2 separate regions of the Homo sapiens genome follow, and region 1 is linked to region 2. A link means that fine-mapping ties the variant in region 2 to the expression of a gene that starts in the linked region. Tissue or cell type: thyroid. Region 2 holds a variant in brackets; the other region holds the start of a gene. All regions are shown on one strand. Distances are from middle to middle.

What was found.
Region 1: RYR2 starts here. The variant in region 2 is fine-mapped to the expression of RYR2 in thyroid (GTEx, PIP 0.93).

The regions. Positions count from the first base shown.
Region 1 is chr1:237,035,297-237,047,097 of GRCh38, reverse strand. RYR2 (ryanodine receptor 2) reads right to left here and starts at 4,914. Exons shown (of 105, transcript NM_001035.3): 1 at 4,529-4,914. The coding sequence starts at 4,576.
Region 2 is chr1:237,103,032-237,114,832 of GRCh38, reverse strand. The region is part of intron 1 of RYR2 (ryanodine receptor 2); the gene reads right to left. Among named protein-coding and RNA genes, the nearest start is that of RYR2, 67 kb to the right of the region's middle. The variant A/C (reference allele first, on the strand shown) is at 5,994.

The DNA of each region.
Region 1 (11,801 bases), 68 kb after region 2:
GCCAAGTCATTTGGCTTTCTGAGCTTTTGTTTCCTTATCTGCAATATCAGAGAGGCATGGGGTGGACAGGGTAATGTTTTCTAAAGGCCTCTTCCTACCCTAATGTTTTGGAGTTTGTTTATGCATTTTTCCTTCTGATTGCTCCATGCCATCCTCTATATCTATTCTTTGCAATTACAGCTGCAAACCACTTCCCTACTTATTTGGAATACTTCCTTAACATGCTATGCATACAGACGGTGTTCAACAAATGTTTTCTGAATTAATCTAATTCCCACAATGTCAGAGTTTCAGGAAAAATGTGTGCTTCATCACCTCTCCCTCTCTCCCGAAAGCTATCTAAAGAAGCACAGTCACCCAGTGCTGCTGGAGTCCTTTCTTGGGTAATTCAGCCGTGATAAAAACACTTATCTGAAGCCAAAGTACAAATACAATTGAATGTCAAATAAATTAGTGCCCTAAGCGTTTTAGATCTTGCCCTTCCTGCCAATGTGTACATGCTAATTTCTAAGTTAAAATAAAATAAGTCTGATGATGTAAGCCTGGGTGGGCTTTCCATCAGTTCCTTGGGAAAATACCATAGTGCATATCTATCTAAAGCTCCTCGTAGCTTCATTATGAAGGGAGCAAAAAGTGCGAATTTCCACTGCTCATTCCATCTTTTCCTTTGTACTCTGTGACATTCCTACAGCTGAGAAAACTGACTTGGTATTCTTTTGCTATAAACCTAAAACATACTTGAACAGCAGATAAAGAAGCCTTTCTCTCCTGGAAAGAACACTATTAGCCTAAGATTTGAATTTTAGTCCTCGTTCTGCACTGCTGAGTACTGACTTCATACCATTAACCTTCCTGGACCTCTACAAACTAGGGCTAAGTATTCCCATCCAAACTACTATGCAGTGTTGTACACCAGCATCTATACTGCATAATTGTCACCATTTGTAGATGAGTATATTTAAAGATGCTTCTTGTCATTGTGGAACAAGATGTATGAACACTGAGAAGAAATCTATAATGAAATACTTCATTCTGCAAAAGAAGACAGGAGGAAGACCGTAAGCATTCCTATCAGGATCATTCTTACAGCCAGGACTAAGCTTTAAGTCTCAATCTATGGGTAAATACAAAACTACATGACACAGTACACCACAAGGGTAACTCAACTGTGCTTAGACAAATGAAAGAAAGACAAAGTACTCAAAAAAAAAAAAAAAAAAAAAAAAAACCTTGACCAAGGTCATTTTATACCATGGTTTTCCTAAAGTCAGAGGAATATCTTCTATAACATTCTGTATGATTGTTGGAAAAAAAAAAAAAAAGAGGACCATAACGAAAAAGATGCGTGTTTTTAAATGCCAAATGACAGTTTGATGCTACATTGGTAAGTTAATAAAATCTTTAAAATAAAACACACATTCCAAATCATGGATATGTTTGGATATGACAGTGAATGAATCCATTACAAGCTGACAGCTTATTTTATGATAGGATTTTTCTCTCATAAAATAAGTGTCCCAGCATATCCAGAGTTTACAAAAACATATTTTCAATCTCTCTCAAAGATAAACAGACCCAAGTGGGCAGGTTTCCAACAGATGGGGGAGCCACTGAATCAATGATCATTCATCTACATAACTATTTGGAAGGAATGTGAGCCAACTCGACAAGCAGCAGCAAATGGAACAGAGATGCCAGAGAGACAGGTACAAGCTAAACAGTGACAAACCCCTTTGCAAATGAGGAATTAATTTACAGCAGCATACATAACTCACAGATACAGCCCATTAAAGATTTCACCTCTACTTCCCTTAACAGTGATCTCACACCTCTTCTAAAAAAAGAAAAGCAAAAAAGCTTTCTGTGGACAGTGGTCAAAAAGATGCCTCAATGTGCTGGGGTGCTGAATACAAATCCAATAGACAATGACCTGCTCAAGATAATAATCCAGATGTTCTAATCAGGACATATGAAATGTCCCATCAAATTCACAATTACGGTGTCTTAATGACTGTTTTTGTTTTTCTATGCAAAACAGCTTCATCCATCACTATCAAGAATTCTTCCATCTACAACTGTTTTATCAAGATGTACAGATTCCTAATACTCCTTGGGCTATTTGCTTTAAAAAAAAAAAAAAAGAAGAAGAAGAAGAAATAACTCATATTGACAAGCTTGCACATGACAGAGAAATAAATGCCCTCAGAAAAAAAAGAAGCGACTTCAATGTGGGAACTATACTACAGTCTCCCCATTATTCACCCCATCAGCATTTCTGAACCACCAACATTCTCAGGTTAAGAGAAAAAAAAGGGGGGTGGGGGAGGGAAGGATGGAGGGTAATGGGTGGAGAAGCCGGTAAAGGATTTGAGAATTTCCATATGAAAATTGGAAAATTGTGAGGAAAGGCATGTTTTCCTTTTAGATGTTAATGCTATACCAAAAAAAAAAAAATCCCCCTGCTCCACTGTGTCACCTCCTTCAAGGTCATTTGTCGTCAGCACAGCAACCTACGGATGTTTTATTAAAAGAAAAATCCCAGCCTGGGACTGCCAGATCTCTACCCAGGACCCACTTATCAAAGGTGCTGCTCTAGCTGACAGGCAGCTGCTGAGTGGCACAGAGTTGACATTACTTGATATGTGCAGAACCTCATCAGCCAGCACGTTCCCTCGGTCCCCATTAAGCATTCTGATAACACCACCTCCATGAGCTCGGCTTAACAGTTAAGCCCGCAGGAAGCCCTTGAGTGCATGAAGCCTACCAAAATGTCCCAGCTAGTTTTAACCCCACAGAGTTTGATACGAATTGATTGAAAAATTATACAGCAACCGTATTTGTCCACCTGAATAAAATAGTCCTTAGTTTTGAGAAAAATCTAATGTGGTGTTAATTACTTAAAAAAAAAAAAACCCTTATAGTCTATTTTCTATGAAAAAGACAACTGTATTACTAGCAGGTTTATACACCGTGACCAAGGTATTAGTGAAGAGGCTCTTCCAAGCCCGGTCTTGGGCCAACAGTACTTCAAAAAGCATATGCAATGGTGCATAACCTGCAGCTATTAGACTGGATTACTATTAGGTTGTCATCTGATGTGGACCCTGGGTTTTTATCCTTCCCAAAGCTTTCTCCCAGTCCGTTTAATGCACAAAAGAGAAAGAGACAGTCGTTTACAACGTTCCTTTGCAAATTCGCTGTTTTCATATGTTTAGTACCCAAATACATCAAGACTATTTTCACACCTAAAAGTTAATATTCCAAAATTCCACCGTATCTACGATTTTCTGTGATTATAGGTAACTGTAACCGGGAAGTGGTTTTGTTTGTTTGTTTGTTTTGTTTTGTTTTGTTTTTGTACTGCTGAGGAAAGAAGTACCAGCAGAAGCTGCAGTTCTAGGTTGGGGAAGTCTGGGGAATCCTGCAAGGGAACATCCTTCGGGAAGGAGGACAGAAGTGGAGAAGGAACGACTGAAAGGATGCTAACTAGGTTATTATTAGCAGGAAGTTAGGGCATTTTCTTTTCTGGAGAGGCTCTCCAGTCCCAGCTTGGAGGTGTGCAATGCCTCAGCCTGGGAAGTATCTGCAGTGTTCGAACAAATGAGAGAAAGGAAGGAGCAGTGCCAAGAGGTACTTAAGGAGAAAGAATTGTATTAGTGTGGAGCCAACCTTTCCCGGGCAGCCACCCTGCCCTTACACTTACACACACACACTTTGCTTCACTTGGCATGCAATAAGCCAGCATTTAGAGAACGACACGTTCACGATGTTCTCCCCACCACCACCCGCGCGCGCGCACACACGCAAACACACGCTCGCTTCCCATGCCTTCCACGCTTTGCAAGCGGTCACAGCACCACCACGGATGGCACCAGCCCCGGGAACCGCGGGGACCACGGAGGCGACTCCTCCTCCGCTTTCGCAGCACCTTGACTTGGGGGAAACCTCCGCGCAGCGTCCTGCACCATCACCCCCGCCCCCGGTCAGCTGCGCCGCACGCTACACGGAGTAAGCGAACCAACGTCTTCGCTCCGTGACAACGCGCGGGTCCAGCCCGAAAGCCCAAGAAACCTCCCGGCGGCGGTATTCCCAGAAACAGCCCGAGTTCCCGCCGCTCCCCGCGCCCCCACGGGCCACCCTGCTCTGCACCCTGCCCCCGGCCGCCCGGGAGGTCCCAGCCGTGCCACCAGGCAGGCCGGACCGGCCGTCCCCTCCTCTCCCGGTTCCCGCAGCTCCGACGCTCCTGTCCCCGGTGCCCCGGGTCCGAGCCCGGGCGCCTGCCGCCGGCTAGCCGCGCTCCATCCTCTAGCTTTCCACACGCGCGCACAGACACGCGCCCTTGCCTTCCCTCGCCCCAACACGCACACCTGCACACACTTGGTGATGCCCGCTCCTCCCGCATCCTCAGGGGGCACCCCCTCGCCCCGCCCGCGAGTCCCCGCTGCCCGCTGTCACTCTGCCCGGACCCCGCTAGTGGATGCCCTGACGCCCCCTTCCCCTGACAGCACACGCGACGCACGGCGCTTACAGTTCGCAGGAACTGGATCTCGTCTTCGCCCTCGCCCCCATCGGCCATGGTTCCGCGCCTCCTCGCCGGGGCCGGCTCCCGAGCCCCGCGGAGCTCGGCGGCGGCGGCGGCCCCTGGCGCTGCCTTCTGCTTCTGCTGCCGGGAGCCGGGGGCTGGAGGGGGCCGCGCTGCCGGGTGCCGAGCGCCGGGCGGTCCCCGCCTGCAGAGCGGAGGAGGAGGCGCGGACGCTCGGGCGCGGGTGGTCGAGGCGCGGGGCCTCCCTGCTCCGCACTGTGCGGGAGGAGGGCGGCCCGGGCCCGGAGGACGCGGGGAAGCAGCCCCGCAGCCCAGCCGCGCTCGCTGCCTGCAGCCGGCGGTCCGCTCGGCCCCGGCTCCTCCGAGCAAGTGCGCGGAGCCAGCTGAGCCGGGGTTAGTGCAGCGGTGGGGGTGGGGTGTGGGGGCGGGCGGGGAGGAGCTCGGCGGCTCCCCGCTGCTGCAGGTAATCCGCAGCCCGCTCCTCCGGGCCGCCAAACCCGAGGCCCAGCGCCACTTACTGGCTGCGCTGGGAATCGGGGCCGGAGCGCACCCGGCGAGCGCACAGCCTCCTACCTGCGCCCCGCTGGGGTCCCTGGGCTCATTCCCCTGCCCCTTCCGAGCTTAAAACCGCCGGCACGACGCCCCTTCCTCCTGGACTGGGCTAGGGCACTAACTTCCACGGCACTTCGGATCGCACGGAAGAATGATATCTTTCACCTGGGCGCACGGGGTGGCTAATCTCCAAGTAGAGATTACGCAACACCTGGTATTTTAAACGTGGATTACCTCTATTCATGATCAAATGGGAATTCTTCAAGATCTAGTTTTAGTGTACCATGCTTTTCGCAGATAATCGATGCAAAGTGCACGGTTTTGGTGCACAGAACTTTAACATTCAACAAATATACAGTGAGCGCCTATGCCAGACAATGTGGTACAAGACAGACCCAGAAGTGTGTAGTCTGTATTCGAAGTGCAAGCCTTAATTCAACAAGGAATTGCGGTAAAGTATGGGATACTATCTATAAGTCTGAACCACTGGATGGGTCTAAAGTCAGACTGTGCTACCCATTATCCTTGCTGAGAGAAGAAATTCGAGCATTCCACCGCAGATAGTAATATCTTGCTCTCGCAATCCTCCATGCAATAGTCTACCAAATGCCTACTTAACAAACGGCTATGACTAAGAAAATACAGGGTCTGAGACAATTTGGACAAGAAAGCAATTTGTCTCTTGTTCCTAGTCCACAGCGCTTTCATTTATCGTACTTAAAATAAGTATGTGCAAAGTAAAGTTTTCAAATGTCAGTACTACGGAGATGCAGACATTGTAAAACAAGGATTTTTGCGTCCGTTTACCTACATCTTACATTCTGCGGCATCTAACTCATTATTAAAATCGACCACTGAGTTCTATACAGTTTATATTTTATTTTTAGCATTCATTAACTTTGTACTTACTGGGGTAGGTTTGTAAATTTCCAGGAGAATGACAATATGTGTATAAATACTCGCTGTCCGTGGTAGAACTAGTAATGTTCTGCCCTATCTCATGGAAGTATACCAGTCACCTTACCTAAAAACTTGACCTATCCCTGTAGCCATGACGACTAACCAACTCTTAAACCGTTATTATTTATGTGAATGTTTACTCTTACGAGTCTCTAAAGGAACAACCAGTGAGCTCCCAAAAAGTCGGGTAAGAGTCCTCCATGAGCAATGACTATATTCTGAAATTGGCTCCTGATTTAATGTTAAATGATTTGATCTTCCAAATTTAGAACGTATCAAATTGACGTTTTAAACTATTTTATTCAGAACTATGCAGAGACAGGTTTCTTAATTACTCCATTCTACCCAGATGGTAGGTAAAATAATATAAAAACGCTTACCACGTCTTCATTTTGGCATTTTAACTAGGCTGTAAACTGTTCTAGCAAGAGTTATGGTTATTATTTCTTTAGTTCTCTCAATGTAAGTGGAATAATGCTAAAAGGCCTAGACACTCGATGTTTCTTATTCACCCCATACAGTCTTCAACAGCAAGTAGACATAGAGCAGAGACTATTTATAAAACACACCGTGTATGTGGACTTTAAAACACAAAAATACAAAACTATGAGGTTTATAGATCTCTAGTCTGTTCTAAAAGTATAAAAATATGTTTGAGAATGATATACAACATTTATTTTTAAAAAGAAAACCAAAGCAAATATAACAAGTGTTTTAATACTGGTGATGGGCATATTGGTGGAATATTATTTTTGGTACTCTGATATTCTGTTATATTTCATAATTACATAACAAAATAATTTTTACAAGAAAGCAACTTCAGTGAAAGCTATGGAAACTTTTTACTTATAGCTTTTTTAAAAAAAATTTAACCCTTTTGGATAATTTAGTTATAATTCCCTAGTTTCTTCTTCTGGTGGACAATTGTAGTAAGAATTCCAGTGCAGAGATCATAGGATACTAACTAACCTCAATTTTAAGTGTACTTGAGAAAAAATACATAAAATTTGGATACAGCTTAAAGTTTATGTTTACTGTATTTAATTCTTATTGTAGACTCAGACTAAAAGAAATTAACAAGTAGACCTTTTTCTAGGCACAAAACTATAGTTCATTAAATAGAAAAAAATTATTTACAATTTTCATTAGAAAATAGTATTTGATATCTATATATTTTGTAATTTTTATTAAAATATTTATTGGCTGGGCATAATGGCTCACACTTGTTATCCCAGTGCTTTGAGAGGCCAAAACAGGAGGATTGCTTGAAGCCAGGAGTTCAAAACGAGCCTGGGCAATGGAGACCTCATCTCTACCAAAAAAAAAAAAAATTTTAATTAGCTAGGCATGGTGGCACAAACCTGTAGTTCTAGCTACTGGGAGGTTGAGGTAGGAGGATTGCTTGAGCCCAGGAGTTTGAGGCTGCAGTGAGCTATGATCAAGCCACTACCCTAGTAACAGAGCAAGACCTGATCTCAAAAAAAAAAAAAAATTCTCTTTTTCTAAATTCGTGTTATGTATAATAGCTTATTTTGCTTTTTATTATCTTAATATTGCTTTATTATAATATAATCTTTATATTCAATAGATACTACATTTTAAATCTTTATTAATCATAAAATTATTAATAAAAAGTTTAGAGGATGACATTTCTATGTTTCTTAGTCCAAATTTGGGAAGTATTCTTCTTTATGACTAATTTTATATTCTGCAAGAGAGGGAAAAATTATATTTTTGCTTTTTTAATTAAGAGTTTTTCTGCAGTCATCTAATTAAGAATGGGCCATCGTAGCCCACTTATTCACTTGGCAGGATGCTAGACAGCCTTAAAGAAGAAAAAAATTAGGACAAATGTAAGCTTTTTCATTTTGACTTACAATTTACTAAGCTCCCCAATGATGTACATGAGCTTAAAAAATTAACTTCTTCCTCAAGGTTTCTACGGAAACTCAGCAAAATACTCAATGTTATCATTTTAATTCAGCTCCTTTCAATTAAGATTACATACATTAAAGGCTTTATTACTGACTTGAAAGCCTCTGGAATTGTCATCGAATCATTATAAAATTAGGATTAGAGAGCCTCTAACGTCCTGAGATTTAGCCCATTTCTTGTTAACTCAGATTTCCTGTTTCAAAATCTCTAAGGAACATTTCATACCTATCTTCTTATCCCACTTCAGAACTCAACAGACCAACATTTTACAAAATTTCCATTTTATTTACATCCTTATTGCATGTGTTCTAAAATACTATAATTCTTATGAGCACCTGTCCTAGAAATAAATCCCTGGGAAATTCACCACAAGCCAGTCCTCAGGTCACATGGCCTGAATCTCTGCATTAATGCAAGATGGCCAGAAATTACATTACGAATGATGACGATGGTGATGAAACTTCATTTATTGAGCATTTACTATGCTCCGAGCACTTGCATTTTATTTTTTCTTTTCGTCTTCGCAGCAATATCATTTTTGAAAAACAGGAAAGAAGACTTAAAGAAGTTAAGTAGCTTGGCCAAGAGTATGCAGCTGCTGAGTTTTGACACAGGGGTCCGAGGACTTATACTCCTCCCCTACCTCCATCCCAAAGCGGAAAGCACAAAAAAGAGTCTAGACTAGCATGAACTATAAAAGGCTCTGGCAGCCCCGGGAGATCTGTCCCTGGTTTCAGGCCAAAGCAGGTCCTGCTAGCTCTTGGAATGCCAAGTAAGTTCTGGAAAGAGACAGAGATTACTATGTGTTCAGAAATAATATCCAATTTGTGCCTTTCTCCGCAGTTTGGATTCTTAGGGTAAATCAGTTTTTCAAGACTTGAAGGTTATTCACCACTATCGTATTAGTTCCTTTCCAAATTATGAAGCCCCAAACTACAATTAGTATTCTGATTTCCAGGGTCAGGACTGAACTACATGCAGATAGAAAAAGTACACATGATCTACCTCTTGGCATCGGAGGAGCCCTGGACATCACAGAGAAGGATGTCCCCACCCGACGAAAAGTTTGCTTATTACTGTAGTCCCCTCTTACCCACAGCTTTGCTTTCTGCAGTTCCAGTTACTCAAAGTTCCAAAATTTAAAATGGAAAATTCTAGAAATAAACAATTCCTACATTTTTAATTGTGTGCCAGTTTGAGTAGCGTGATGAAACCTTGTACCATCTCACTCTGTCCCATTCGGGACATGAATCATCCCTTTGTCCAGCGCATCCACTCTTCTGTACTCCCCACCGTTAGCCAGTAGCTGTTTCAATAATCAAATCGACTATCGCGGTATCATGGTGCCTGTGTTCATGTATCCCTTATTTTACTTCATAATGACTCCAAAGTGCATGAGTAGTGATGCTGGCATATTGTTATTATTGTTCTATTTTATTACTAGTTATCATCGTTCATCTCTTACTGTGCCTCTTATAAACTAAACTTAAACCTAGGTTTGTATGTATAGGGGAAAAACACAGCATACATAGGGTTCAGTCCTATCCATGGTTTTGAGCGTCCCCTGGGGTCTTGGAATGTATCCCCTACAGATCAGGAGGTATGGGTTCCTAAGGAAATGTGGGTTCCCCAGCCTCATTTCCAACTCAAATTGCCTAGTGGCTTCCCAAGTAGGTCATTCTGACTGTCACGTGTCTCTGAAGGCAGATCTTCCTCCTGATTTGCCTATTTCTGTTGTACTACAGCTCGAATCCAAACTCTGATCACCATTTTTGATTCCTCTCTCACCTTTCCCACTGAACATCAGTGTCTTTTTATAAGTAAAAGGCATTTTCCTGATTCTTGTCTTTATATCCCAGAGTAATTTCACTAACATCATCACTAATCTTCCTGTTTCTTATGCTTTTCCAGTGCAAATCATCTTCCTGACTCCCACCAGCACCACCCCCTATAATAATGTTTTCATCTTGTCACTTCCTTGCCCAATAAGAACTAGAACCATTGAAAGGTGGCCCCCAGATGCCTCCAGGTTATGTTCAAACCCCTCAGCTTGGCTTTGGAGACTCCCCACGATATAGCCTTAAACATACCTTTTCAATATTTCTTTCCTAGTATTCCCATTTTGCCTCCCAACCAGACTACTGTTCTGCAGATTAAAAAGCTACTCAGCCGTGCCTCTTCTTTTGCTATTTCTTTAGCCATCCAGGGCCACAAAATCCTGCTGAAATCCACTCCATGCTTCAAGGACTAGTTCAAAGCCCCCTTCTGGGCTTTGATTACTCTGGCCAGAGATTGTATCTCCCTCCTGTGAACCACAGCCCTTGATCCTGTATTGCCCAGGCCTGTAGGTGTATGTTTAAGGGTAATGTCCCTCAAATGCAATAACTACTGCATAGAGGCAGAGAAAATGTGTCTACTTTTTTATTATACTTCTTTTCTTTATGGGTAATAATTAAGATCCTTTCTGTTGATGGTCATGAACTGCTTGTTTACCATTTTGTAGATACCTTTCTACTTTCACTTTCCTTTTAAGAAAATTCCATTTTGAAACACCTTTCTTCTTTTTATCCCTTCCTCTATGTGGAGTTCATTCTTTAACTGCAGGGTGCTAACCACTTTGCTGTGTTCAGTAACACAAAAGTAACCTCCAAACGCTTGTGTCCATAGAGTTTGTCCCAGCATGAGACCCATCTCTAATGTCTTCTAGGTATTCACAGAACAACAGGACATGAGCAGGTTCTTTGAACCCTTTATTCGTTCGTTCATTCGACAAACGTTTATTGCGTGTGTCCCAGGCTTTGTCCTAGCAAATAAAGCACTGGCCCTATCTTCATGGGGCTTTTATTCTAGGGGAGGAGCTAGATACCAACAAGTAAATGTATATGTCAGGTGCATTGAGTGCTATCAAAAAATACAAAGCAGAAGCCAGGAGGAGTAGCTCGGGCCTGTAGCCCCAGCTACTTGGGAGGCAGAGGTGGAGGTGGTAGGATTGCTTGAGTTCAAGTCCAGCCTGGGCAACATAGTAAGACCCTGTCAAGAAAGAAAAGAAAAGAAAAGAGAGAGAAAGAGAGAGAGAAGGAAGGAAGGAAAGAGGGAAGGAAGGAAGGAAGGAAGGAAGGAAGGAAGGAAGGAAGGAAGGAAAGAGGGAAGGAAGGAAGGAAGGAAAGAGGGAAGGAAGGAAGGAAGGAGCAAGCAGGATAAAGGTTAACAGAGGGGCCAGTTTTGTAGAGAAAATGGTCAGGGAAGACATCCCTGATGAAGTCACATGGCAACAGTAGCTTGAATCAAGCCAGGGAATGAGCCTTGTGGCTATCTAAGGGAAGAGCACTCCACGCAGAGGGATTGGTATGTGCGAAGGCTTGGAGTTGAGAGTGTACATGGCATGTGTGAACGATTACGAGGAGGGCAGGGAAGGGCAGTGCAGTGGTGCACTATGGGCAGAGCGAAGGAGGGAGCAGGAGGGTGCTGGATGATGAGGCCAGGGAGACAGCAAACACAATACATACCCTGCCCATTCCGAATGGGAACATTCATTGCTTTTTTTCAGGAAAAAGAGTTTAGTGTGCTCAGTCTGGTTTAAACTAGGCCACCTGGCTACCCATTTTAACACCTAACCTGAATCTCCATGCTCTCTATACATTTCTAATTCCTGGATACTAGAAATCTACCATCTGAGTAGAAATTCTCCTTACCTGTTGAAGTTTGCTAAGAGGTCCAACTTGGTGGATTATATTTATTTATTGCAATATTAAGACACCCTACATTTTACCAGCCTTGTTATTGACTTGAGAGATGGCTTAAACAAATGGAC
Region 2 (11,801 bases):
ATCCCATTGTACAGATTAAGCAGCAGGATCAGAGAGGTTGAGTAACTTGCCCAAGGTCAGTACACTAGTTAAAAGGTGGTAGGGCTGGGATGTGAAGCCAGGCAGTCTAGCTCCAGAGCATGGGTTTTTAGCCTCTAGGCTACAGCCCCTTCCCCCATTATTTTCCTAAATTAAATTTCTCAGTGGAGTCATGCTCTATCCCCTAGGTCTTCTTCCCTCAAGAGTATGATTTCTAAAAGGATTTCCTGGAGTGAGGTAAATGGAAGAGTAGCAGCTTTAAAATCGAAGTATTTCCAAGCTTCTGACAGGGTCCAAGCTCTAAAGTGTCTGAATTCAAATATTTTATACTGTACTCTTCCACTCTGAAATACAAACTTCTTTAATTCAGTGTTACTTGCTAAGGTGAAGATGTCATGTCCATTTCATCACCTTCAAAAGCCTTAATGTGACACAATGTCTTGTCAATAAAAATGTTATGCAAAATTTTATTTGCAAGGCTAAAATTTTAGAGAAAAGATATTACACATATCAAATTTAACAGGGTTTTCAATAAGTAGGAAGAAAAAAGGATTTGGTGGCATCTGGGCCAATCCTAGTAATATTGACCAGGCCAAGTGTGTCCTTGGGAATCCCTGGTTCTTTGACTTTTCTCTACTCTCTAATCCCCGTGAAAATGACTAACCAGAAAAAATCACTTCCATATGGTTTGATATAAACTTATACCAGTTGGATTATTATTTTTCCCTGGGACATCTATATTTTCACGAAATGAAAGTCTCTGCACCCTTTCTAAAGAAATGCCCAGGTGACCATGTACTAGTGGCACAAAGAGCTGAGAGAATAAAAGGCAAGTTGCGTGCATGTTGGAGCGACGTCATGTCAAGACCACCTGTTCTGCCGGAGTCTAAGCAGGGTCCGTGCTGAGTTCTTCATTTCCTTCACTTCAACACTTAAAGAAAAGTTCAGTGCTACAGTTTTATTCTTGTGTGATCTTTAAAAATACTGCACTCAGAGATGTTTAAATAAATGTGATCTAAGTTCATCTCTCTAACACCCAATAGGTGTGAGCCTGCTGAATTCCACCTTGTAGCTCTCTATCCCTTTGCTTGGAAAATTCTGGTTCTTATCTCTTTTCTCACAAGTGTACTATGTGGATTTTTTACACTATTTCATGGCAGTCTGTTCCTCACACATTGATGATGTACCCACTCCCTGGGCCAGGAATTGTGCAAGGAGCTGTGGATTGCAAAAACTAGTATGACATGATTTTGACCTCCAGGGAAGTGACATGCCCTTAAAGGACAATGGGACAGAGTCTTCTAAAAGAGAGGCCGGCTGGACACGATGGCTCATGCCTGTAATCTCAGTACTTTGGAGGCTGAGGCAGGTGGATCATCTGAGGTCAGGAGTTCGAGACCAGCCTGGTCAACATGGTGAAAACTCATCTCTACTAAAAATACAAAAAAATTAGCCAAGCATGGTGGCGCACACCTGTAATCCCAGCTACTCAGGGGGCTGAGGCAGGAGAATTGCTTGAACCCAGGAGGCAGAGGTTACAGTGAGCCGAGATCATGCCACTGCACCCCAGTCTGGGCGACAGAGTGAGATTCCATCTCAAAAAATAAAAATAAAAATAAAAATAAAATAAAATAAATAAAAGAGAGGCCAACAATATCCTATGGCCAGATGGAGGGGAAAAAAGCCCCCTTTCTGAATTTATGAAAACCGAACCTCAGAAACCATTTTTGGCTAAAGAGCTGGGTTTTGTTCTCAATTCCTACTGAGGATCATGTCTTGGATGCAGAAAGGAGAAGGAGCACACTGCTGGTACATGTGAACAGAGTCCCCGTTGAGGTTCCGTGAAGCTTATTTAATAAATAGTTATATGACGCCAGGGCTCTGCAAGGTAGGGCACTTAGGGATAAAAAAGCAAACAACCGAGATACAGGATTAAGGATAAATCAGCTGAATACAAGAATGACAGCAAATTACATGATGGAGCATAAACCAAATAGGAGCCAGAAACAGTTGTTATTTTAAAAGTCAGGAAGAATCATGATCCCCATTCCTAAGAGGCTTACATCCTCATGGGGAGATAAATCAAACAAAAGTGGAGCCCTAAAAACATAAAACCATAATTATTACTATATGTGGGCTGGAAAGGTGGGCCTGGATCAGAGCAAAAAAGCATCAAGTCGTTTAATCCTAGAAATTTGCCTGGAAGGGGAGAGCCATTAGCTAATTTTTTTTTTTTTTTTTTTGATGTTGTAGCTTAGAAAGAAGAGGTAGGGGGAAGTTCTCCTCCCTGCCTAAAGGGTAGCCTGGGCAAAAATTTCTTTAACAGAAAAGGTAAACAAAATAAAAATGGGAATCATGAGGCCAGCTAACTAAAGAGCAGAGAGATAAAAAGAGAGGAGGGGGCCGGGCACGGTGGCTCACGCCTGTAATCCCAGCACTCTGGGAGGCCGAGGCGGGCGGATCACCTGAGGTCAGGAGTTCGAGACCAGCCTGACCAACATGGTGAAACCCCATCTCTACTAAAATACAAAAAATTAGCCAGGCGTGGTGGTGGACGCTTGTAATCCCAGCTACTCAGGAGGCTGAGGCAGGAGAATCGCTTGAACCCGGGAAGCGGAGGTCACAGTGTGTTGAGATTGCACCGTTGCACCTAGCCTGGACAACAAAAGCAAAACTCCATCTCAAACAAACAAACAAAAGAGTAGGGGAAGTAGCAAAAACATCCAGTGATGGAGGGGGAACTTACCTACTCTCCTCTATTTGCATACTATCTCATTTAATCCTCCAACTACCCACTAGGGTGCACTCACCCACCACCCACCCCCAACCAATGACAGCTGCTGGGCATGGGCTGCCACTGGGGTGCCAAACAGACAAGGTACCTGCTTTCCAAGGGCTTACAGTGGAGTAAATTACATTTTGTCCTTCTGCCAGTTCTCTAGCTCAGAGAGGTACAATCCTCCAACTTGCCAGAGGTCCTCCCTGCACTAGAACCCTCAAGGAGCAGAATCAGGGCAGGAGCCAGACAGGTTTGTCTGACCTCCAAATCTCAGAGCTTTCTGTTACCCTTGCAGGATAGGCAAAAATGAGCAAAAACTAAAGAGAATCCCAAAGATGGCAAAGATTTCCACTGGATATTTTCTTTTGCCATTTCCATTTACTATCCTGAAGCACACTTCACACTCAGAACTTCAAATGTGCCTTTTTTTTTTTTTTTTTTTTTTAAAGAGACGGAGTCTCATTCTGTCACCCAGGCTAGAGTGCAGCGGCACGACCTCAGCTCACTGCAACCTCCGCCTCCCAGGTTCAAGCGATTCTCCTCCCACAGTCTCCTGAGTAGCTGGGACAACAGGCACCTGCCACCGCGCCCGGCTAATTTTTGTATTTTTGGTAGAGACAGGGTTTCGCCATGTTGGCCAGGCTGGTCTTGAACTCCTGACCTCAAGTGATCCACCTGCCTTGGCCTCCCAATAAGGGTATTGTGAGAAATTGGCAGGGAGGGGAAAGGAATGAATTATAATCATTTCCTCTTCTCCACCCTCTTCTACTCTTGAGGGAAAGAAGAGCAAAATGTAACTGTTGGAAGAGGCAATGGTACAAATACTCCAACAAGCACAGTGCTGTGAATGTCCTCTGAACCAAAAATGTTTCCCTTTCTTAGAGCAGCTCGATACAGCAGTGTCAACAATGTTACCAAACAGATATTCATTTACTTGGTCCAACCTCGAAGCATCCTCACAAAGGACCCAATTGCTCTTCAGAAGGATGTTGAAGCTAGAGAGAAGGAAGACCAGTGGCCCAGTACCAGAGGCTCCAAGCCTGAGACCTGGCATCGTGCTTGACCTTGAAAATGTCATTGAATTCTTGAGTCTCATTAAAGGGGGACTTCACAATTGACCTCACAGGGTTGTGGTAGAGATTAAATAACAAATACAAGCACCTTGCAGCAAAGTGGCTGGTCCCCCAGAAATATGCAAATGTTAGTTGATGCCAAATAGAATATTTCAGTTTGAATTAACCAAAGAGAATGTTTCAGTCCACAGCAGGAGGTTTCAGAGCATTGGTACCCCGAGGGAGAAATGAAGCTGAGATGACGCAGAAGAGTAGAGGAACAGTGCCTACCTGGAAGATAGCAGGTGTGCCCCTACCTGAGACAAATTTGCCAGCTTTGCCTAGAGCGAGAGTTCTCAAAGTGCAGACTCCAAACCAGAGGCATCAGCATCCCTTGGGAACTTAGGGACGTGGATGAAACTGGAAACCATCATTCTCAGCAAACTATCGAAAGGACAAAAAACCATACACCGCATGTTCTCACTCATAGGTGGGAATTGAACAATGAGAACACATGGACACAGGAAGGGGAACATCACACTTCGGGGACTGTTGTGGGATGGGGGGAGGGGGGAGGGATAGCATTAGGAGATATACCTAATGCTAAATGACGAGTTAATGGGTGCAGCACACCAGCATGACACATGTATACATATGTAACTAACCTGCACATTGTGCACATGTACCCTAAAACTTTTAAAAAAAGAAAAAAAAAATGCCCATTTTCAGGCCCCACCTCAGACCCACCTAATCAGAAACTCTGGGGCCAGAGCCCAGCAATCTGCGTTTTAACAAGCTTTCCAGGGGATTCAGATGCACACTCAAGTTTAAGAACTTGAGTAAAAATTAAGTGAGTAAAAGTCAGCAGTAGAGAAAACTTAACTCTATGGGCCTATCATTCCACAAAGAAAATTCATACCAGGATATGGCACAACCCAACATTTCCACGGTTAGAAAGTGGGGCCGGGGGATTAGAATTTCACAGCTTAGCATAGGGGGTACAACTGACAGCACCTTACTGGCCCTGTGTCTGTCTTGTGACCAAGCTGTGGCACCTGTTATTTTGGGCAGTTTTCTCGGTGCACAAAGCCAGGTCATACGCTCAGTGAACATTGCTGAACACCATGAAGGTGACATTTAAAGCAAAAAGGCCCTCACAGAGGTAATCTTCCTTGGAAAATATCAGTAGTCAGGTTGGCAATCATGTAAATTTCCGTTTCCCCTACCTATCCCAGGAAATTATTATTATTATTTTTTTTTTTGAGACGGAGTCTCGCTCTGTCGCCCAGGCTGGAGTGCAGTGTCAGCAAATATTTTTTAAATTTCTGAAATCAATCACATTGCACTGCTGCTGCAGGACACTGCAGAGAGGAGATGCTGCCCATGCACCACCCACAGGCTGCAGGGGCCTCCTCCTGCCCAGGCCCATCACCGAGGCCCTTCGGGAGATTCAGTAGCCTCTATGTGTTGGTGGTTTTAGGGATGGAAAGCATAGATAATCAGATATTGCTCTTAGATTTTCCAAAACAGACAGCTAATGTCACACACAAAAGTCAATGCAAAAAATCTTCCTTTCAAAGCAATTTTCTCTCCATGCCTGAATTTAACTGCATATTCTTTGCCAACTTAAAAAAAAAACCAGCTTTACCATCTTCTAAGATTATATTTCTCAATTTCAAAAAATATAAACTGGAAGCATTCATGGGACTTCCCTGTACATTTTTCTTTGCAACCTATGACTGTAATTATTTCAAAATAAAATACATATATTTTATATATACATATATGTATTTTACATATGTATATGTATATATGTATTTTATATATACACATTTATGTATGTATTTGTGAATATATACACAGATGGTTAGGTTTTACCCTGGTTATTCCGGTTATGTTCGGCTAGGTTAGGTTTCACACTGGTTATTCTGTTGAACACACATATACATAGACACAAAGGCAAGAATCCCAAGCCCTGACTTCAAAATTAAACCCATTTGCTCATGTTCATGTAAAGAGTGATATTGAAGTGTGCTCACAATGAAAATAAACTAGTGAAGCAGTTCCTTGTCTAATCACACACCCAGCTGCTCTTAGGAGCCAGTACCCCAAAACACAGAAGCTGAGCTTGCTCAGAAATACCA[A/C]AAGTGCAAAACTGGAACGCTGGTGGAAAGCACAGACAAGAGACAACATTGCAGGCTTCCTAAGACCCACTTCCCAGACTTTCCTGATCATGCAAATCACCTGGGGTGTGTAAAAGAGATGCTTTTTCCCATTCCTGATTGCCAGGAGGAGGGACTCTCCTCCACCCTGCAGCCTCCACGCCCCTACACACTCCCGGCCTCTCTCAGCCCTCTCTACTTCCTATGTGCCTCAGGAGAAATAATTTCGACTGATAGATTTAAGAGAATCCCAGAGCTCTGCTCAGCGCAGCTCAGCCCTGTTCTCTGTTTTGGTTGTGAGCTTCTGCAGGCTGCAAGGTTCTGTTGCTGCTCCAGCGGCCCTGCTCCCAGGGAGGCCTCTGCGGTACATCAGCCTCATTCCAGGAATTCAATTAGCAGGCCTACTGGGCTAGCTGACTTAACGCAGCATCCTCCAGCCAAGCCTCTATGAGGACATTTTGACCTCTCATTTGTCCTAGTCATTGTTTTTGTCTCAATTCATTCAGAAGCTGGGCAGGAAAGGGGAGTATCATATACTGGGCCCCTCCGATCCCTCCAACAGGTGTAGCCTCACAACCCAGATTCCCAGGCCCCTCTCCTGGAGGTTCTGGGTCGCTAAGTCTAAATCAGTGCTTGATGCTTAGGCAAGGAGCCCAGGAGATTCTTATTCCCTGGAAAATTTGGGAAATGCTACCCTAAAGAATATTCTAGGATCATGTTCCCTGTTATGCAAAGTTGAGGCATACATGAACCAGCTTCCACAGAGGTTTCCAGCACCACCAGGAAGGTTAGCTCTAATTACTCCCACAGGGGACATGAGAGAAACCGTGAGCTCAGGACCGGAACCTTTTTACCAGGAGGTAAAACAGCCCCACAAAGGAGTAGAGGCTTTTCAACAATGCCTCAAGAAAAATAAAGGAAGATGAGGGCATGTGAAGCCCAGGGGAACCCCAGGGAAGGAGGGAGGAGCCCAGCCTGTGCAGGGGAGGTGGATGCCACACGTGTGACGTGCTTCTGGAAAGAACTAAGGCTGCAGGACACCGTGAATCTGGAAGGGAATGCCCCAAAGCATCTTCCACCTCAAGTGTCCAGACGTTTCCTACACCTTTGTGACCACACAAGATCCTGAGTGGACTCAGAGGCATCTTCCACGGGAGATGGAAGTCACCAACTCTGAGCCAGGAATCGGAAGCTTCACATCTATTACCTATAATAGAGCAAGGTAAATGTAAAAGCAACTTGGTAAAACTAAAGCTGCAGAGAAGTGAGAACCTACAATGTTTCCTTTTTTTTTTTTTTTTTGAGATGGAGTCTCACTCTGTCTCCCAGGCTGGAGTGCAGTGGTGCGATCTCGGCTCACTGCAAACTCCACCTCTGGGTTCACGCCATTCTCCTGCCTCAGCCTCCTGAGTAGCTGGGACTACAGGCGCCCGCCACCACGTCCAGCTAATTTTTTGTATTTTTAGTAGAGACGGGGTTTCACCGTGTTAGCCAGGATGGTCTCGATCTCCTGACCTCGTGATCCGCCCGCCTCAGCCTCCCAGAACCTACAATGTTTTCTATTAAGCAAGAACTCCTAAGTGGGGCTCATAGTACAGCATCTATAACTTCTAAGTTAAGATATATAAAGTATATGTTGTCCATTGATGTTTTGATGTCATTGTTTAATGTGTTGGTCTATTTTATTTTAGTAAACATAATAATGCTTATAAGACTTTTATTGGTTCATCCTTCTTTAGCCCTCCAGCCTTTTATTTCCCCCATATGGCCTTAGATTTCTTAATCCAAATTAACCTCCCTTTGTGTTACAGACTAAATGTTTATGTCCCTCAGTCCCCCCAAAATCATATGTTAAAATCTTAACCCCAAATGTAATGGCATTAGGAGGCGGGGCCTTGGGAGGTGATTACTGCCCTTTACAAAGGGACTTCAGAGAGCTCCTTTGTCCCTTCTACACGTGACAACACAGCAAGAAGACAGCCGCCTATGAACCAGGAAGCGAGCCTTCACCAGACACCAAATTGCTGGCACTCTGATCTTGGGCTTCCCAGCATCCAGAACTGTGAGGAATAATTTCTGTGGTTTCTAAGCCTCCCAGTCCATGGCATTTTGTTATAGCAGCCCAAATGGACGAAGGTGCCATGTCTGAAAAAGGGACACTGTATACACATCACACTGAGAAATCCATTTTTTCAAGGACAGTTTCAGCCCTCTCTCCAGAAGTCCACACTAACCACCTCCCAGCAGCTCCACGACTCTCTGACAGACAGCGAAAACCCCCACATTTCCAGAATGAAACTCTTGATCTTCACTCTTTCCAGGACCGCTCCATCTTAGCTGGTGAAACATCATCTGTCTGCCAGAAACCTTGGGATGATCCGGACTCCCCTTCTCTCTCTCAACCCTCATCAGAACCATGAGGAAATCCTCCTGGCTCTATGTCCAAAAAAATATCCAGGGTCCTGCTGCTCGGTGCCACCTCCCCCTGCTGCCACCGTGCTGCAAGCCACATCAGAGCCTGTCTGCAGCCCAGCGGGAGCTGGTGCAGGGGAGCTGTTCTCCCTGCCCACCCCTGTTTACCAGGAACATCTATTCTCAACACAGTGGCCAGACGGGTCTTTTCAGAATGAAAATCAGAACGAGCTACCCCTCAGCTCAAAGGATTGCAATGACTCCCATATGGCTAAAAGTAATAGCAAGAGCCCAGTCCTCTCAACAGCCCTCAAGGCCTCCTCCACCTGCCCGGCCCACACCCGCAGCCCCTCTGGCCTCCCCACCACTGTGCCCCAGTCCTGCTGCACACTCTGTTCCTTAGAGTCTCCAGGCACACTCCCACGTTGGTGCTGGCACTGGCTGCTCCCTCTGCCTGGAAGCCCATGAACTAACTCCCCTGCTATCTTCAAGCTGCTCAACTGCTACTATCTCAAAGAGACCCACTCTGATAACTATGTTTTTTGTTTGGATTTTTTTTTTTTTTTTTTTTTTTTGAGACAGAGTCTCGCTTTGTCGCCCAGGCTGGAGTGCAGTGGCGCAATCTCAGCTCACTGCAACCTCCCACCTCCTGGGTTCAAGCGATTCTTGTGCTTCAGCCTCCCAAGTAGTTGGGACTACAGCTGCCAATTTTTGTATTGCTGGCTAATTTCTGTATTTTTAGTAGGGACAGTGTTTTACCATGTTGACCAGGCTGGTCTCGATCTCCTGACCTCAAGTGATCTGTCCGTCTCAGCCTCCCGAAGTGCTGGGATTACAGGCATGAGCCACTGTGCCCAGCTAATTTTTGTATTTTTAGTAGAGACAGGTTTTCACCATGTTGGCCAGGCTGGTCTCAAACTCCTGACTTCAAGTGACCTGCCCGTCTTGGCCTTCCAAAATGCTGGGATTACAGGTGTAAGCCATTGTGCCCAGCCTGATAACTACATTTAAAATCACCACTCATTCCCTCCATCACCCCCTTATCCTGTTCTACTCTCATTTTCCCCCAGAGTACTTACGATCTTCTAACATGCAATGCAATTCATTTAATATGATTGTTTTTCAACAGGTCTTCCCCACCAGACTCTCAGCCCCATGAGGGCTGAGTATTTGTTTAACAGCATATTTCGGGCACCTAGAAGAGTGTGTGGAATACAGTCGGTGCTCAATAAAATTTCAGCCTTCCCCAAACGTAAGGTGAACAAAGCAGCTGGGCTAGCTCAGGGTTCAACCAGCCGTGTTTGCCGGCACTGAGACTCATGTCAGGAAGGGGGAGGACTCACAAGATGTGAGCAGCACCCCTTATTCGTGAGGTTCTAGAAGGCCTTTCTGCACTGAAATTTCTCCCTGACAGTCTGCCAGAAAGCCTGAAATTCCCAGCATTACCATCAGACCGTTGAGAAGACCTCGAGGGAGAAGGGAATGTGGCAAACTCATCACAGCCATTAAGCACCAGGCACAGATCAGCCAGCTTGAATCTCCACTGCACGATAGTCAACAGGTACAGAGGGCCTGCCACGCACAGGCACTGTGCTTGCAAACTCGGTACAAAGATGAGGAGGAGACTCCTTTCCTATCCGTAGGGAGATGGGGGTCTAGGCGGGGAGAGAAGTACATATACAAGTAAGTACAGTGCCCTGGGTAAAACCTGAAAGAAAGGTTTACACAAGGCCCTAGAGGGTGACCAGGACCCAGTAACAGCTGGGAGAGTCACAAAGGCTATCAGAAAGGAGAAGTGACTGACAAACCAGTAGAATTTGCCGGGCAAAGAAAAAAAGGCAAGGGAACAGCACCTGCAAAGCCACATAATTGTAAAAGGCACAGCACATTTAAGCGATGGTGTTGGTCAACTCACCATGCCGGAGCATCACACAGAAGCAGCAGTGCTAGACAAGGAGACAGGGAAAGGTGCTGAGCTGGCCTGGTCTTACAGGTGGGAGGGGACAGCAGCGGGTGAGGGCAGAGCAGAGTTTTTTGGAAGATGGTCCTAAGGGCAGGCAGGAGGAGGTGCTGAACAAAGGAAACGTCCTTGGCAGGGCCCTAATGAAAGGGACAGCTGGAGCCTTGTCCCTACTGAGGGATGCTTGCTTCCAAGTACCAAATGTAATGCAAAGGGAACGCCGGCCAAATCCCACAGGTCCAGGCCACAGACAGGCACGTTCCATGGATGATGAATTACTGCCGCTCCCTCCAGGTTCTACCTACAAAACGAAAAGGTGGGAGATGGATGGGCGAGAGGAAAGCCCCTTGCTGGTCCAGAGGAGAAATGATGAGGAACCGATGCATTTGCAGTGAAGGCGGGTTTTGGCCACAAGCAACTAAATATCACGTGAGGAACTTCAGCCCGGGATGACACAGACTGATAAAGGCATGGTGACCACAGAGAGACAACCAGACAAAAGAGACAGAATTCTCGGTTGCAAATGACAGAAACCAACCAAGTTGGAATGCTAGCTAACAGGTGTTCAAAGAATTGACAGGGGCTGGCCGCGGTGGCTCACGCCTGTAATCCCAACACTTTGGGAGGCCGAGGCGGGTGGACCACCTGAAGTCAGGAGTTCGAGACCAGCCTGGCCAACATGGTAAAACCCTGTCTCTACTAAAAATACTAAAATTAGCCAGATGTGGTGGCACACACCTGTAATCCCAGCTACTCGGGAGGCTGAGGCAGGAGAATCACTTGAATCTGGCAGGTGGATGTTGCAGTGAGCCGAGATCATGGCATTGCACTCCAGCCTGGGCAACAAGAGTGAAATTCTGTCTCAAAAAAACAGGGACACTGGACAATGTAGCCTGGAAAATGGGCAGAAACCAAAGGAAGGTGGTGGTCAGAAGGCCCACGGCCCAGACACACACAGAAGCAGTTACGATAATTCAGCACCAACACCTGAGGTAGCCCTAACCTGTCCCCTGTTCTTCACGTTGCTTACTTCAGGTTCAAAGTACCAGGCTACAGGAGGATTGGTTGTGCTAAGGTCAAGTTGCATGCCCTGGGCAGCAGGATATGGAGAAAGCAGGTACTGACCTTTTCAGCTTCCGTTGTAGGTGATGCCATGACTCACGCAACAGTGAGGTTCCCAAACGTAGGACAGTGTTCGGAAGCTGAATATCCAAAATAAATTTTAAAATAATGTCCACTTAGCAGTTTCTAACTCTAAGCCCAATTTCCAATGGACACATCTATCTTGGATGGCCTCAGAGCTCCTACTGGCCTCAGACATCCATAATCCCAGCTCCACAGTACTATAATATCCAAGATTGAGCTCCCAGCTTTTCCATCCCAGAAAGTACCCTTGGGTTCAAATAAAACTGTTCTTG